Linked DNA regions of Homo sapiens: region 1 is linked to region 2. Evidence: fine-mapped expression QTL. Tissue or cell type: Th17 cells. Region 2 holds a variant in brackets; the other region holds the start of a gene. All regions are shown on one strand. Distances are between the middles of the regions.

Region 1 (8,000 bases), 67 kb before region 2:
AATCTTCAAAGGCTTACTTTGCACTTTACAAACTTCCAACTAGAGTTGAAAAGAATGCCATCATTGTACCTAACCTGCATTTACTTTAACAGTCTGACCACAAAGGTATTTCTTCTCTGGGCTGAAGGACCACTGAAGTTGTGCAAAACCCTTTTCGGTTACAATGAATTACCAAACATGTGAACGAAGAAGCACAAGACAGTAAACTTCTATCCGGGGAACGTCTATCCTAATAATAGAATTTTATTATGTACAGGTTTCCATAGTTGCCATGATTTCAAAATAGTACCAAAAATTACATGAAAAATATTTAAAAACAAGATAAACAAGGCTTCATTAGATTTCATAGTACAATGATGGTTTTACTGTTAAATGAAAACAATTCACCCTTTCCTAGGAAACATATCAGCAGTAAGATAAACAAAAAAATTAAAATTTATACCTCAATCTGCTTATATCAGTTCCCGCCGGGGTAACTTAAAAGCAGCATTAGCATTACGTTAATCACTTAACTATAGCTTCGGTTAAAAAAGGCATGTGTTTCAACCTTCATATTTTACAGACTAAGAGAACTCAGAGTAGTAAACTGACTTTCTCAGACTCACACAAATTGTATGCTAAGACCAGGTGCGGTGGCTCACGGCTGTAATCCCAGCACTTTGGGAGGCCAACTCAGGTGGATCTCTTGAGCCCAGGAGTTAAGAGACTAGCTTTGGCAATATGGTGAAACCCCTTCTCTACAAAACACAGAAAAAAAAAATTGGCCCGGCGTGGTGATGCAGGCTTCCAGTCCCAGCAACCCGGGAGGCTGAGGTAGGAGGATCGCTTGAGACAGGGAGATCAAGGCTGCAGTGAGCCGTGATCACGAGCTGCTGCACTCCAGAGCTGCTGCACTCCAGCCCCGGGCCATAGAGTGAGATCCTCTCAAAAAAAAAAAAAAATTGTATGCTAAGCCTAGACTCTTGACCACCCCCAAGCCCTACTCAGTGCCATTTCCACCGCTCCACACATTTCGCTTTGGATACATTAATTATATGTTATTTTCTTCCCAACATCCAAAATAATACTATTGATTTAATGCTTTATCTGTTTTCAAAAACAAATTTTTATAATCTGATTTAAGTATCTTTCCAAAATGCCTGAAGACATTTCATGATGCTGCACAAAAACCCAAGCAAGATTTCTAGCAACGAGGTACACTGATCGAATACATCGAAATATCAGTTATAATATTCCTGTTTCCAATTTCCACAACAGAGTTGGCTTTGAACTGAAACTTCCTAAGAAAAAACCATTTCCTTTATTCACACTTCCAAGTTACATTTTGAATATTTCAAATAGCTCGGCACAAAAATCTAAAGTAATAGCTAACACCGTAACAAGACTGAGAGAAAAAGTTCCTTTTTTAAATGTGTTGCAAAGTTTGCTCTCACATCCTGGTAACTGGAAACTGCAACGCTGGGTGACTGACCAGCCTTTTTTTTTATTATTTAAAAATTCAAACGGCTATAAAGGGCTTCTAATGTGCGTCTTATTTTTAAAAGGTAAGGTAAAAACCCTTTTAACCTAATAGTAGGATATATGTGTACAGTTTCGTAATTCTGTTAAAGTTTGCAGAATTAATCACAATTCATGTGTTAAATGTTTAAATAACATCTAAGTCATTAAAACCGCTTAAGTGCACCAAAAAAGGGCAATAACGTTTGCTCCGCTTTGTTTCCTTAAAGTCTCCATCCAACTGAAGCTAACTACTTGCTGTGGACAAAATGATCACATTCCTTCTGCCTCCCCCTAACATTTCTGGTAAGAGAAAGACCTGGCTCTAGGAATGTGTGTTTAATGCAACCCTGAGCTCACTTCATCCTTTCATGGGGCAAATGTGGAATAAATTACCAATGAAAAACTTTAGTAATTTTAAGATTTGTTTTACTTGAAGGTAGGGGTGTACCAACAGCTGCCAACACTTCTGTTGAAGTGTTGTAACCGAAGAGGTAAAAAGTGTACTGAGTAATCCACAAAATTGGGTAGAGCAAAGGATGCACGCCATGCTTATAAAGAGTTTAATTTTAAAATTTTTTAAATTAAACCTTCAAGGGAACTAGCATGTGAACGCCAAGGCATAATCTGTTATTTAATTACGGGTCTCCATAGGACCGAGGCGGAGAGAGCTCCCGGTAGAACCGACGCAACCATCCCGGGATGGTGACCAACGCGCGGCTGCTGCGGGCAGAGGGACTGAAGAGAACCGGTGGTCCCGACGCTGGCCCCGAGCCCGAGGAGTTAAACTAACAAAGAGCTCCCCGAGCCGCGAAACCCCCCAGAGCGGAAGCGACGCCTCCCCGCCGCCGCCGCCGCGCCGCGACCCTCCCCAAGTTCAGGGCCCGGCAGTGGACTCGCTGCGGGGCCTGCGGCCAGGACGGCGCCGGGTTCGCAGTCGGGATGCGGGAAACAGGTAGAGGCCAGAATACGAGCCCCAAAGAGAAGAGTGGGCGCTTCCCCAAACGGGTCGGCGCAGCGGAAAAGGCTAACTGAAGCAAGCGGGAGGCCCCGCACCGAGGCCCTGCTTCCCGGGGAGCAGCCAGGCACAGCGGACAGGGGGGCCGCGCTTTGTTACCGGCTGAGAGAAGCTCCGGCCGCCGCCGCCGCCATCGCCCCCGCCCCGGGGCGTCGCTTCCCGGCGGTTCTCGCCTTCCTCGGCCGAGTAGTCGATCTCCCCCTCCTCGGTCTTGAGACGCTTGGCCTGGCTCTCGTACTCCCGGTCCTCCTCGTACGTCTCCCTGGGGGAGGAAGAGGAGGAGGACATGGCGGCGGCCGGAGGGACCGGCTGGCAGGCGGGTGGGGGTGGCGGTGGGGCGCGCGCCTCGGATGCCGCCGGCCAGTCCTCGCCGCCGGCAGCGCCTCTTCTGCGAGGGTCTCCGCGGCCCGGCCGTCCGCGGGGACTGCGCGGCCAGGAGACTGGCGGCTGAGAAGCGCGGACGGACTGAGGGGGGCGCCCCGGGAGGAAGCTCTGGAGCGGCCGCTCCTCTCAATTACCGAGCCAACATTCAGCCTCTCCCTCCTCCTCCTCCGTCTCCGCTCCCTGCCCGGAGGAGCGAATCTAAGGATGGGGACGCAACCGTGGCTTCCGGTCTTCCCTCCTCCCCTAAGCCGCTCCCAGCCGCGCAGGCCGAGCCTCCGCCCCCGCCTTCGCGGCCGTCGCGCAGGATCGAATCCAGCCGCAGCCTGCGGGAAGCGCCCCCCCCGGCCCGGGTTCTGCTCCCTATTGGCAGGGGCGGGAAAGTCGACCGGGCTTCCCATTGGCTGTGAGGGCCGTTCGTCAAAAGCCGCCCGCTGCTCGACCTCACTTCTCTCCCCGCGCCTTCTGAACTCGCCGCGGTCCTGGGAGGCCCGGCGCGCAAGGCGCGCCGCCTGGGAGTAGTTGCGACCCGCAACCGTTGGCGCTATGCGGCTCCTACCCGAGGCCAGGCGTGGAGTGAACACGGACGAGCGACGAGAAGTGCGGAGAGGCTAGGGCTGCGGGTGTTAACCGCCCTGCCGCTAATTTAAATGCTTTTTATCACCTCTTAAAAAGAGAATGAGGAAAAAAACCTCTAAAATCCCTGCAGTCATACCCCCCGAAAAGCCCTAAAATTGCAGGCGATGAAGGGAGAAAACGGCTTGGAGCCATGAGAATGGTCTTTCCACTGTTTTGTGTGCAAAATCTGGTAGAAGTGGGCGGACCCTCCCGCCCCTAGCTGGGTGTTGGAGAACAGCTGTCAGCATTGACTGAAGGCTGCGAGGCGCGCGTCGGCAGGAGGCGCTGCACGCGGGCGCTCGTCGGTCTGATCGGTTATAACTCGTTTGTAACCTGGGCCCTTTACTGACTTGCCTGTCCCTGTAAGTCCCTGCTCCAGTTAAATATGTTTTAATCCTTCCATATAAAATCTCATCCTCCATCCCAATTCTTTCTCTTCTGGACAATGTATTTACTTCACTTGATCATTTATTGTCGAAAGATACAAAAGCCTTTCAAAGTTCTGTGATCACAGCTTGCTTCCTCTGTGGTGTCCTGAGGGCTTTTCCAAGATTTTAGTTGCTGCTCTCTTTTTGCAACAGGGCCCCTTATAACTCCCTCTTAAGATGTTCTGTTTTAAAAACTCTGTGAGCGCCTGAAGACAGGAACTGTGTGCAATTTTCATTTTCGCAAGCCCAGTTCCTGTGCGATCTCCAGCACAATTTAGGTGCTCAACAATGCTGAATGAGTAGTCCTTGGGAAATAAAGGTCCAGTGTATCTTTCAGGACAGAAACTGGCAAATCAAGGCAACCTAACTGCCCTCTGTCAGGTGCCTCTTGGAGGACTGCCTGAGATCAAGAGCCTCTTGTGTTTCTGTTGTCCTTGTCCCTCGGATGCTTTCCTAGATGTGGCTCTTCCTTTCCTAAGAGTGTAGATTGCTTCCTCCTCCAGCCTAGTTCTCTCCAAAGTTATTTCCTCCTCCAAAAAAGCTATTTTTATTTATTGCTGAGAGTGCTTTAACATAACACTTTTGTACTTTGTAAATTACACCGGCTGTCATTTTGGAATCTAATTGCAAGATTTTCCACACTATGCAGCTATAATCAAATGTGTGTGCGGCTGCAGGTATACATTGACAAAACAGAACTAAAAAAATTATAAATTTATTTTTTAAATTAAAATGGAAGTCGACAGAAGAAATAGCAAAAGAGTGGCAGAGCTGGCTGCGGATGAGAAAATGTCATTGGCAAAAAGCTCTGCAATGGTTTGGGAAAGTAAAATAGCAACAAGGGAAACAATGATACAATTCTGCTTAAAATATGTCCTATGGATTCATATGTCCCCTAACATATTCAGAATGCAGACATTACCTGGCCTTCAGAAAGCTGAAGATACCAAGGGTCAAAAAAAAGGTCTAACAAACCTACTTCACGTGTTATCTTTAGCATCCATTGTCCTTTTTATAGCAGTCTCAGTATCAAAGATCAGGAAAGGATGAGTGAATTAATAAACTTGATACAAAGGAAACTTCTTTGATGAGGTGAGATGGGCCATTCTCAAGATATTTTTAGTTTGCTCAAATTAAAAGAGAAGAGCTGAGAGCTTAAAACAATTATTTTTTAGGAGAAAGAAAACAATAGAATATTATGTGAAATAATTGAGTGTGATGAGAAGCACTAAATATCTTTTTGTTAAGTATGAGCAACTACCTGTTAATTTTGTTTTATGTACATTTTCATATGCTAGGTGAATTTAGTTTGGTAAATTCTATTCACTCACAACTGGATTTACTAGGCCTTATACAAACTTTCCAAATATTTCTTGTGAAGATGCAAATATTTTAAATTCTCAAAGCCCTGCATTCAACCTATGGATTATACCACATTACAATGCAACTGTCACACCAATGGGTAAGGAAATCCAGCCTTGCCAAACCTAGGGCTGCTGTGCTCAGCGTTCACAAACAGCAGGTGGAATTCAATATGTACCAGTATTAAACTTTGTTCTTTTTGTAAGTAGCCCAGTTGAGTAAAAAAAAAAATATTGAGGGAGTAAAACTTAGAAAGCATTTTTAAAGGACACCAATCAGTTCGTTAACCATGGGTGAAATGCGAGCTTGTTGCAGATGAGTTGTTCAGACAGTGACAGTAGGTCCTTTGATAAGGAAAATACTAGCTAGCTCATCACCAGGGCATGAGGAGCTAAAGAGAGAGGACATAAATTATACTCTACATTATTTCACTTAGGTGAGACAAAGAAATTACACACTGCCCAGTAGCCAGAAATACCTAAGAAAAGCAGAAACAGCTCCTAAATGCCATGACTGTCTGGAACCTCTCATGCATTACGGCCTCAGACCTTTGACTATTTTCTGAACATTTGATTGAATTCGCTGCTGTCAAGTAGGCAGCAGCCAAGAGCTCCCATTGCCACAGCTCAAAGGGGACTCCAGCTATACTGGAGTAGGAGACAGGCTTAGGGCAGGCCTAGGGAAATTGAGAGTCAAGGGCCTTTATAATCAATCCAGCCTCAAATTGCCCTTTAGTTTTAAATCTCGTTACTGATCTATAAAATTTATAAGACATTGTGCTAGGTGATGAGAGGACTACGTGAGCTGGTCCCTGCCCTCTCAAAGCTTGCAATCAAGTTGTGGAAACAAGGCTCATACCCAAGAGATAGGCTACAAGCATCCATATGTAATAATACATATACAATAATTAATAGCCACATTTAATGTGCCAGTCACTGTGCTAACCACTGAAAGGGTTTTGTCAATAAATTCTGACAGAAGCCTTCTACCAGAGGCATTATTATTACTCTTCCCAGTATACAATTAAAGAAACAGTCTAGGGGAGATTAAGAAACCTGCCTTAGGCTGGGCACAGAGGGAGGCAGAGGCACACAGATCACTTGAGCCCAGGAGTTTGAGACCAGCCTAGGCAACGTGGCAAGACCCTGTTTCCACAAAAATTGTAAAAATTAGCCTGGAATGGTGGTGCGTGCCTGTAATCCCAGCCACTCAGGAGGATGAGGTGGGAGGATTGCCTGAGCCCAGGGAGGTCCAGGCTACAGTGAGCCGTGACTGCACCACTACACTCTAGCCTGGGTGTTGGAGTGAAACCCTGTTTCAAAAAAAAGAAAAGAAAAAAAAGGAAACCTGCCCTAGAGCTGCAGTTAATAAATTGAAAAGCCAGGACTGGAACCCAAGCAATCGGGTTCCAGAGCCAGTACTCGTCATCAGAAGACTGATGATTTAATTATTGTGTTATTTATTACCATGGACATACAGATCTAATTTATAGTCACTTATTATATAATGATGCTAATTCATTCACTGATTTCTCCTTTTTATTTATTTCTTTATTTGAGACAGGATCTCACTCTGCTGCCCAGGCTGTGGAGTGCAGTAGCGCAATCATAGCTCACTGTAGCATCTACCTCCTGGGCTCAAGCAATCCTCCCAACCCCAGCCTCCCAAGTAGCTGGGACCACAGGCACATACCACCACACCCAGCTATTTTTTGTTGTTGTTGTTGGTAGAGACGGGAGTCTCACCATATTGCCCAGGCTGGTCTCAAACTCCTGGGCTCAAAAGATCCTCCTGCCTTAGCTTCCCAAAGCATTGGGATCACAGGCATGAGCCACTGAACTCAGCTTCATTCACTAATTTATACCTGGGTTTATGTAGCTATAATCCTGGGAAGGATTGAATACGTTATAGTTTTCATCATTTGCATTTGTATAAGGAAATTCAATTTACTTCCACAGGAAATTACAAATATAATGCACTGTTTTAGTGTTAATTTTTTACTTTTTTTATTTTTATTTTTTTAGACAGGGTCTTGCTCTGTCACCCAGGCTGGAGTGCAGTGGCATGATCTAGGCTCACTGCAACCTCCGCCTCCTGATTCTTGTGCCTCAGGCTCCCAAGTAGCTAGGATTACAGGCTTGTGCCACCATGTCTGGTTAATTTTTGTACTTTTAGTAGAGATGGGGTTTCACCATGTCGGCCAGACTGGTTGTGAACTCCTGGCCTCATGCAATGCACCCACCTCAGCCTCCCAAAGTGCTGGGATTACAGGCATGAGCCACTGTGCCTAGCCTTCAACTTAATTTCTGTAGAAAAAGCCCAGAAATTATGTGAAAAGTGTCACCATTTTCTGATGGATGCATTATTTGAATAACTAAAGATGCAAATTACAAGTTTTTCATACCCAAACTCAATTTCCAATATTGCTGCCATTTCATTGAATATGCAAAACTTTTGTTTCCTGCCTCAACTCCTGTTAAAGTCCAGTAAAACCTTCATGCACATCTTATTGTGAGTCACACTTCCAAAGGATTAGAGCCATAGAGGTGTGTTATGATTAAGACAACATACTTAACATGAAATCCAGCTATTCAGAGACAAATCAGTTAGTTTCTATGAAGTTTTGTTAAATCCAGAGTGCACTATTTCTGACGATGCCACTTGTTTGACAGAGATCACTGAGAAAGAGTACTGTG
Region 2 (8,262 bases):
GCCGAGTTGGAAGGTGGGTTGAACTGTGCCCTGGGCTGCGAGCAGGCCCCAGGCCCACGCTACATACCTCCCGGATCTAGCGGGCCACTTGCAATGCGAGGGACCAAGGGGGAAAGTCGCCTAGCTTGGGACCGTCTGACTTGCAAGCGCATGCATCATAGAGGGCCGTGTGGCCATCCAGCATTTGGGAAAAACTGTAATAAATAAACTATGGCAGTTGGCCTCTGGTTATCCGTTCAGGCTTTGCCCCAGTTAACGTAAAAGGTCAGCTGATGGTATGATACACTTCAGCGATCCTGGAGCGATCTTTGAACTGCCTAATCTTTGAACTGCCTGATACCTGGAGAAGGCTGGAGAGGAAAGAGCAGGCAAGAGGGGGTGTGGCTCCCACTTCTTCCCTTCTGAAGAAGGAAATTCAAATACTTGCCTCTTCTACTTCCTTCTTCCTTGATCAGATTCTCTTTGAGGCCTGGTTGTCTCAGAAATGCTCCACTAAGCTCAGTGGTTGCCTAGTACACCAGCTACCCAATAACCATTTAGGAACAAAATAGAGAAGACCAACTCAGTGTCTTCTCAGAGATCAGGTCTCCTACCAACTAGGATGGACTTTTATCCCAGAATCCATGGGCAATTAGGATCAGGCATTAATTAATACATTTGACAACTCTATTAATCCGATGACCTCATTAAACAGGACAGACAAGGTCCCCACTCTTGCGGTTTGGCTGGGGAGATAGACTTTAACTCAGTAATTGCATAAATAAAGAATGACAATTGCAGCTTGATTGCAGCAAAGGAAAATGTACATCATGCTCTCTTAGCACCATGGTGTAACTAGACAGAAAATGAGGTGTGAAATAAAGCTGGCAAAGGGAAACTGAGAGTTAATACTCTCTGCTCAGTGGTTGGGGCGTAGACAAATTCTGCTGGAGAGGAGGTTTGAGGTTTTCCTTTTGGTGTGTCATTCTGTCTGTTTGGTTCTTCCGATACGTAAGATATGTAACTTGGCTCATGGTTACATGTTGGCCAGACCAGCCTGGCCAGCATGGTGAAACCCTGTCTCTACTAAAAATACAAAAAAATTAGCTGAGCATGGTGGCACGTGCCTGTAATCCCAGCTAGTCAGGAGGCTGAGGCAGGAGAATAGCTTGAACCCAGGAGGCGGAGGTTGCAGTGAGCCAAGATTGCGCCACTGCACTCCAGCGTGGGTGGCAGAGCGAAACTCTATCTTAAAAAACAGAGAGCAAATTTCAATTCCTCAGGGAAAAAAACAAAACTCAGCTTTCTGTTGAACACCACCATGCCCGGCTAATTTTTTTGTGTTTTTGGTAGAGATGGGGTTTCACCATGTTGGCCAGGCTGCTGGCGGGCACCTGTAATCCCAGCTACTTGGGAGGCTGAGGCAGGAGAATCACTTGAATCTGGGAGGCGGAAGTTGCAGTGAGCCGAGATTGCGCCACTGCACTCCAGCCTGGGCGACAGAGTGAGACCCCATCTCAAAAAAATAAAAATATACTCTAACCTTTCCCTCTGCCTTTCTGTGTAACAGCTGACCATAAAGAAATTAAGACCCTCATTCCAGAGGGGTCCTGCCCCATACCCGGAGGAAGAAATGCTGCATGGGGAGGCCAAGAAAAATCTGAACACAGGCCTTGCCGAGTTTCCCCACTCACTCTATTAGCAACAGATCTTACCCTTTTGGTCCAATCATATTTCTACATGGCTGTCCATGTTCCATTGGACCTAAGCATAGAAATGGATTGTTTTCCTTGTATCTGTCGGTCTTCATTCTGAAAGCTCCCGTGTCACATAAAACTATAATCAAATAAATTTGTTTGGCTTTTTTATGTATTTTTTATTTTTTAGAGGTGGAGTCTCGCTCTGTCACCCAGGCTAGAGTGGAGTAGTGCAATTATAGCTGACTTGCAGCCTCGAACTACTGGCCTCAAGCAATCCTCCCACTTCAGCCTCCCAAAGTGCTGGGATTACAGACATGAGCCACTGTGCCCAGCTGTTTTGCTTTTCTCTTGTTACCCTGTGTTTGTTGTAGAGGTGTGGGCTGTGACTCTTACAGGGGAGATATACAACACTCTGTTACTATTTTGATGGTGCTCTGATACTACATTTCTAGTGCATTAAAACCTATGTTAACAATAAACTGGTAACAGTGGTTGTTAAGAAAGGATCCTGGGTGCCCAGGGTGCAGAGGATGGGAAGGAGACTTAATTTTCACTGCATATTCTTTTAAACCATCAGAGTATGTAAGTATATATAAACAAACAGAGGTAAATAATTTAAAGTAATAAGACTTGACAGAGGCCGGCATGGTGGCTCACACCTGTAATCCTAGGAGTCCAAAGTGGGAGGATCGCTTGAGGCCAGGAGTTTGAGACCAGCCTGAGCAACATAGTGAGACCCTGTCTCTAAAATAAATAAAAATAAATAAATAAATAAATAAATTTAAATTTAAAAAAAATTTTTTTAAATACTTGACAGAATAAGGGGTTATCTTGACATTACCATATCCCAAAAATGGTTTTGAGCCATGCGGAAGATCTGAGCGTGGATAATTCCATGAGACATGGTCCTTTTGTAACTGCAGAGTTAGATATGAACAATCTTCAATTTCCCAGACAGGTTATATAAACTGTTTGGATGACAGCCATAACCAGAGGTCAGAATGGTTCAGTTTCTCCCTGGGAAAATGGGATTTTTTTCTTTCATAGAATTCTAAAGAAGAAAATTATATAAATTTTTAGTTACAGTAAGAGAGGAGACCACCCCTCATATTGCCTTATGCCCAATTTCTGCCTCCAAAGAAAGAAGTAAAAACTAAAAGGCAGAAACGAAATCCACAGGCAGACAGCCCGGCACTACGCCATGGGCCTGGTAGTTAAAGATCGACCCCTGACCTAACCAGTTATGTTATCTATAGATTCCAGACATTTTATAGAAAAGCAGTGTGAAAATCCCTGTCCTGTTGTGTTCTGTTCTGATTACCGGTGCATGCAGCCCCCAGTCAGGTACCCCTGGCTTGCTCAATCGATCACGACCCTCTCACGCAGACCCCCTTAGAGTCGTAAGCCCTTAAAAGGGACGGGAATTGCTCACGCGGTGAGCTCGGCTTTTGAGACGCAAGTCTGCCTTCTTCAATCCGGTGTCTAAGGAGTTTTGTCTGCGGCTCGTCCTGCTACAACAGCCTAGAAAAATCAGTAATGCCTCCTATGAGTTTTTCAACCTTTTTTTGTATTTAAAAATGTTTTTTGCCGGGCACGGTGGCTCACGCCTGTAATCCCAGCACTCTGGGTGGGTGGATCACAAGGTCAAGAGACAGTGACCATCCTGGCCGACATGGTGAAACCCATCTCTACTAAAAATACAAAAATTAGCTGGGCATGGTGGCGCATGCCTGTAATCCCAGCTATTCAGGAGGCTGAGGCAGGAGAATCACTTAAACCTGGGTGGTGGAGGTTGCAGTGAGCCGAGATTGTGCTACTGCACTCCAGCCTGGTGACAAAGCAAGACTTCATCTCAAAAGAAGAAAAAAAAAGTTTTTCTTTTTTTTTTTTTTTTTAGTGCAGTGGCGCTATCTCGGCTCACTGCAGCCTCCACCTCCTGGGTTCAAGCGATTCTCATGCCTTAACCTCCCAAGTAGCTGGAATTACAGGTGGGCACCACCACACCCGGCTAATTTTTGTATTTTTAGTAGAGACGGGGTTTCACCATATTGGTCAGGGCTGGTCTCAAACTCCTGACCTCAAGTGATCCACCTACCTCAGCCTCCTAAAGTGCTGGGATTACAGGTGTGAGCCACCACGCCCAGCCTAAAAATATTTTTCATCGGCATGTCCCACCTACAGTCATTATGATTTCTTTCAAAGCCTGTGCTGAAAATATTTGCTTATAAGCCACAGGTATAAACAACCTACCCATACAATCATTGAAACGCCTTCCTTTTCATGTTTCCCCCAGTTGCCACCAAAGACCTGGCTATTAACTGCCATGAGAGGCATTAAGGAAAAAATAGAAAAAGTAAATTTAGTGCCTTTAGAAAACCTGGGTTCAGAAGCAGGGATGAGGAAAAAAAAGGATCAGGTTAGAGGCTGCAGTTTATTGTCGCTCACGCCCAGGAGCACCCTGGTGGGAGCATTGAAAATTCCTGGTTTAAAGTTCTGCTTCCTTCCTTAAAGCTGTGCGACCCCGGGCAATTTACTTAAACTCTCCAGACCTATTTTCTCACGTGAAACAAATGGATTGTGATGATTTAATGAGCCATGGGCTGTGATATGTGTCTAACCATATCTGACCACATATTTGATACGTCTCTGA[T/C]CAGAGGGAGCAACTAATCATTTTTATCCCCTTTCTTTCCTTTGCCCCCAAATACCATCTCTGACTCTACTAGAACTTTTTATTTCACTTAATTAACACTGCAAAAAATGGCATGGAGATTCAACTAGGACAGCAAGCAGCCACTAAAAAGTATATAAATTATCTGAGATTACTAAAGTGCTTATTAATTAAATTGTTTTCTTCATATAACCAAAGGATAAGTCATTCTGTGAATGGGGGTTTTGATTGAGAGTGGTGAGTAATTTTATTTCAGACTTTAGTGCACTCTGGCTAATTTTGGGCTGTCCAAATTGGGTGTCACAGTGTGGTCCTTGGGTTGTTAGAGGAGTGGAAAGGGCCATATCCCATGATTAAGCATTTATTAATTTATTCTCGCCAGTGCCTTGCCCAGGAAAGGGGGAAGCGTTTCCTCTACTCTAAGCTCAGCAATTGACTTGGTTAAATCAATATTCATGGCTTGACCTAGGAACTTTGAACATTTTCATGAAAAATAGTATTTTCTGCATTTCAAAACAAATTTTTAGCCATGCCTTATTCGGGATTTGGGGATTGTCACTTTTGTAATTCCGATTTGATGTGAAAGCTTAGTAACTATTAGTCCACTGCTATAGAAGAACTGCCTGAGACTGGGTAATTTATAAAGAAAATAGGTTTAGTTGACTCACAGTTCCTCATGGATGGGGAGGCCTCAGGAAACTTACAATCATGGCAGGAGGCGAGGAGGAAGCTAGACAGATCTTACACGGCAGTAGGAGAGAGACAGAAAGGAGGGGAAATTGCCACTTTTAAATCATCAGCTCTCGTGAGAACTCACTGACTATCACAAGAACAGCATGGGGGAACCGCCCCCCTGATCCAATTACCTCCACCAGGTGGGATTACAATTCGAGATGAGATTTGGGTGGGAGCACAAAGCCAAAGCGTATCAGTAACATTTGAAGGTAGTATAAAATTTATTTGTTCTAAAGGGTTTTTCAGAGACAGGATTTCTGCTGTGCTTAAATTCTTAAAAACTATTCCTCCAGGGGCACAGTGGCTCTCACCTGTAATCCCAGCACTTTGAGAAGCCTAGGTGGGAGGATCACTTGAGCTCAGGAGTTCAAGACCAGCCTGGGCAACACAGGGACACTCTGTCTCTAGAAAAAATACAAAAAGTATCCAGGTGTGGTGGCGCATGCCTGTAGTCCCAGCTATTTGGGAGGCTGAGGTGGGGACCTGAGCCTGGAGGTCAAGGCTGCAATGAGCCGTGATGGCACCACTGCACTCCAGCCTAGGTGACAGAGAAAGACCCTGTCTCAAAAAAACAAAAACAAAAACAAAAAAAACCCTGATAATTATGGGGAAAAAAAAAAACAACAAAAAAACCCTATTCCTCCAAACCAAGGAACTGGCCTGGCAAGTGCTTCTTATCTTCATGACGTGATTGGTTTTGGGTAGTGGTCACTTGTAAGGGAATTCTTGCAAGCCCATGTGGTAGGAGCCCTGCTGTTGGCTTTGTGGTTGTCTCCAACACCCAGTGTGCCTCTGGCAGAGAGCGGGAGCTCAGTGTTCACTTGTTGAATGAATCAAAGTAGGACTCAAAAATCTCTACAGTCAAACATCTTGTTTTTTAGAAAAAAAATTCTGCTTTTCTATAATTTTTGAGCTTCTGAAAAGCGGATGAAACAAAACCAAGGAAAGATTGTTTGGCTCTTTGGGACTCCTTTTGGTTAACCAGTGTATGGGCTTTTAAAGCTATTTTCAGAAAGAGAAGAAGGTGGGGAGAGGTGGGAATAGGAGAGAGAGAGATCAGCCTGGCCTGTGCCTAGGGATGGAGGTAAGGTTAATAACCAGAAAGCCTGCGCTTTTCACATAATTTGATACTGAAGAACATGGACTCATGAGCTAGACTGTCTGGATTCAAGTCTTGGTTCTGCCACTACTTAGCTGTGTGTTTTGGGGCAAGTTATTTAACTTTTCTGTCCTCAGTTTCCACATCTGTAAATTGGGATAGTAATAGTGTCTACATCATAGAAACGTTCTGAGTATGAAATGAAGTAAATGTAGAGCACTTAGAAAGTGGCTGGGACACACTTTGGGAGGCCAAGGCAGGTGGATCACCTGAGGTCAGGAGTTTGAGACCAGCCTGGCCAACATGGTGAAAACCCATCTCTATTAAAAAAAAAAAAAAATTTAGCTGGGCTTGGTGGCGGGCACCTGTAATCCCAGCTACTTGGAAGGCTGAGGCAGGAGAACTGCTTGAATCCAGGAGGCGGACGTTGCAGTGAGCCAAGACCGCACACTGCACTCCAGCCCAGGCTATAAGAGCAAAACTCCGTCTCAAAAAAAACACAACACTCAGTAAGTGTTAGCTATTATGATAGTCAATGGGCAACACTCTGATGCACCTGCAGATTAGCAAAGAAGCAAACCAGGAAAGGCCTGGAAGAGAAGGATTAATGTTTAATTTGTACCCAACCAGTTGGGTAATGGAAACCTGTGACCTGTAACTGGCCTAATCAGCTCAGGGTCTGTATCCTGAGAGCCTCTCCATCCCTTGAAAAAATAGTTCATATGCTTGAATTGCATTCTCTGCTGATCTGAAGTAGACATGACAGATACAGAGTACCACGGGAAAAGGGAATGGAATTCAGAGGACATCTAAGTGAAAACTAGAGTGGAAAGTAATCTTGGTAATAATACAGAAAACAATCTCCAGACCTTAATCTTTTCCATCGTAAAGTAAGCACAGAGGAATTTAAAGAGAAGAAAAGTACCATAATATGCCCACGCCCAAAGTTGTAAGTATGAGGACGCTACTTTGCTTTTTACAGCCCCTCCCCTAAAAAGGCCCCAAACAGTTTATGCTGATTATTATACCATGTAGCCATCAAAAGTAATATGGGGCCGGGGCGGGTGGATTACAAGGTCAGGAGATCGAGACCATCCTGGCTAACACGGTGAAACCCCGTCTCTACTAAAAATACAAAAAATAAGCCGGGCATGGTGGCGGGTGCCTGTAGTCCCAGCTACTCGGGAGGCTGAGGCAGGAGAATGGCGTGAACCTGGGAGGCGGAGCTTACAGTGAGTTGAGATCGTGCCACTGTACTCCAGCCTGGGCGACAGAGCGAGACTCCGTCTCAAAAAAAAAAAAAAAGGGAACTCAAAAAAAAATAAAAAGGAATATGGTAGATATGTCATGACATGGAGCAATCTGAAGATATTTGATAAATGAAAAGTTGCAGAACAATGTACGATTATAGTGTGATACTCTATGTAGTATGATTCTCTTTATATGGAATATGTGTGTTTGTGTATTTATATATTTGCTAATATGTAGTTAATTCAAATTTTTAAATGAAGTGTACGTGCCAGACTGTTAATAGTGGTTACCATTGGAAAGGAGGGGAGTGGAGAGGTGAAGGAAGGCTTTTGTGTTTTAGTCCTTGTTTAGGTTGCTAGACTTCACAAATAAAAGTACAGGATGCCTGGTTAAATGTGGATTTCAAATAAACAGCTTATACTTTTTTTTTTTTTTTTTTTGAGACAGTCTCGCTCTGTCGCCAGGCTGGAGTGCAATGGCATGATCTTGGCTCACTGCAACCTCTGCCTCCTGGGTTCAAGCGATTCTCCTGCCTCAGCCTCCCAAGTAGCTGGGACTACAGGCACAGGCCACGACACCCAGCTAATTTTTGTATTTTTAGTGGAGACGGGGTTTCACCGTGTTGGCCAGGATGGTCTCAATCTCTTGACCTCGTGATCCACCCTTCTCAGCCTGCCAAAGTGCTGGGATTACAGGCGTGAGCCACCGCGCCTGGACACAACTTTTAAAGTATAAGTATGTCCCATGTATAATAATAACATGAACAAACTTATACTAAGCAATTATTTGTTGTTTATTTGAAACTCACATTTAACCAAGCATTCTATATT

Direction of the effects. Positions count from the first base shown, and alleles are read on the strand shown. Sizes are in standard deviations (SD) of each study's normalised expression.
In carriers of allele C in region 2, the expression in Th17 cells of the gene that starts at base 3,105 in region 1 tends to be lower than with T alone (moderate effect, 0.72 SD a copy in Schmiedel 2018).

The links. PIP is the estimated chance that this variant, and not a neighbour inherited with it, causes the effect.
Region 1: HNRNPLL starts here. The variant in region 2 is fine-mapped to the expression of HNRNPLL in Th17 cells (Schmiedel 2018, PIP 0.95).

What each region holds. Positions count from the first base shown.
Region 1 is chr2:38,599,824-38,607,823 of GRCh38, forward strand. It overlaps HNRNPLL (heterogeneous nuclear ribonucleoprotein L like), which reads right to left and starts at 3,105. Exons shown (of 13, transcript NM_138394.4): 1 at 2,615-3,105. The coding sequence starts at 2,803. RefSeq lists silencers at 2,825-2,924, 2,945-2,994, 3,215-3,284.
Region 2 is chr2:38,666,339-38,674,600 of GRCh38, forward strand. It overlaps GALM (galactose mutarotase), which reads left to right. Exons shown (of 7, transcript NM_138801.3): 1 at 1-13. Among named protein-coding and RNA genes, the nearest start is that of GALM, 4.4 kb to the left of the region's middle. RefSeq lists enhancers at 1-40, 41-553. The variant T/C (reference allele first, on the strand shown) is at 4,330.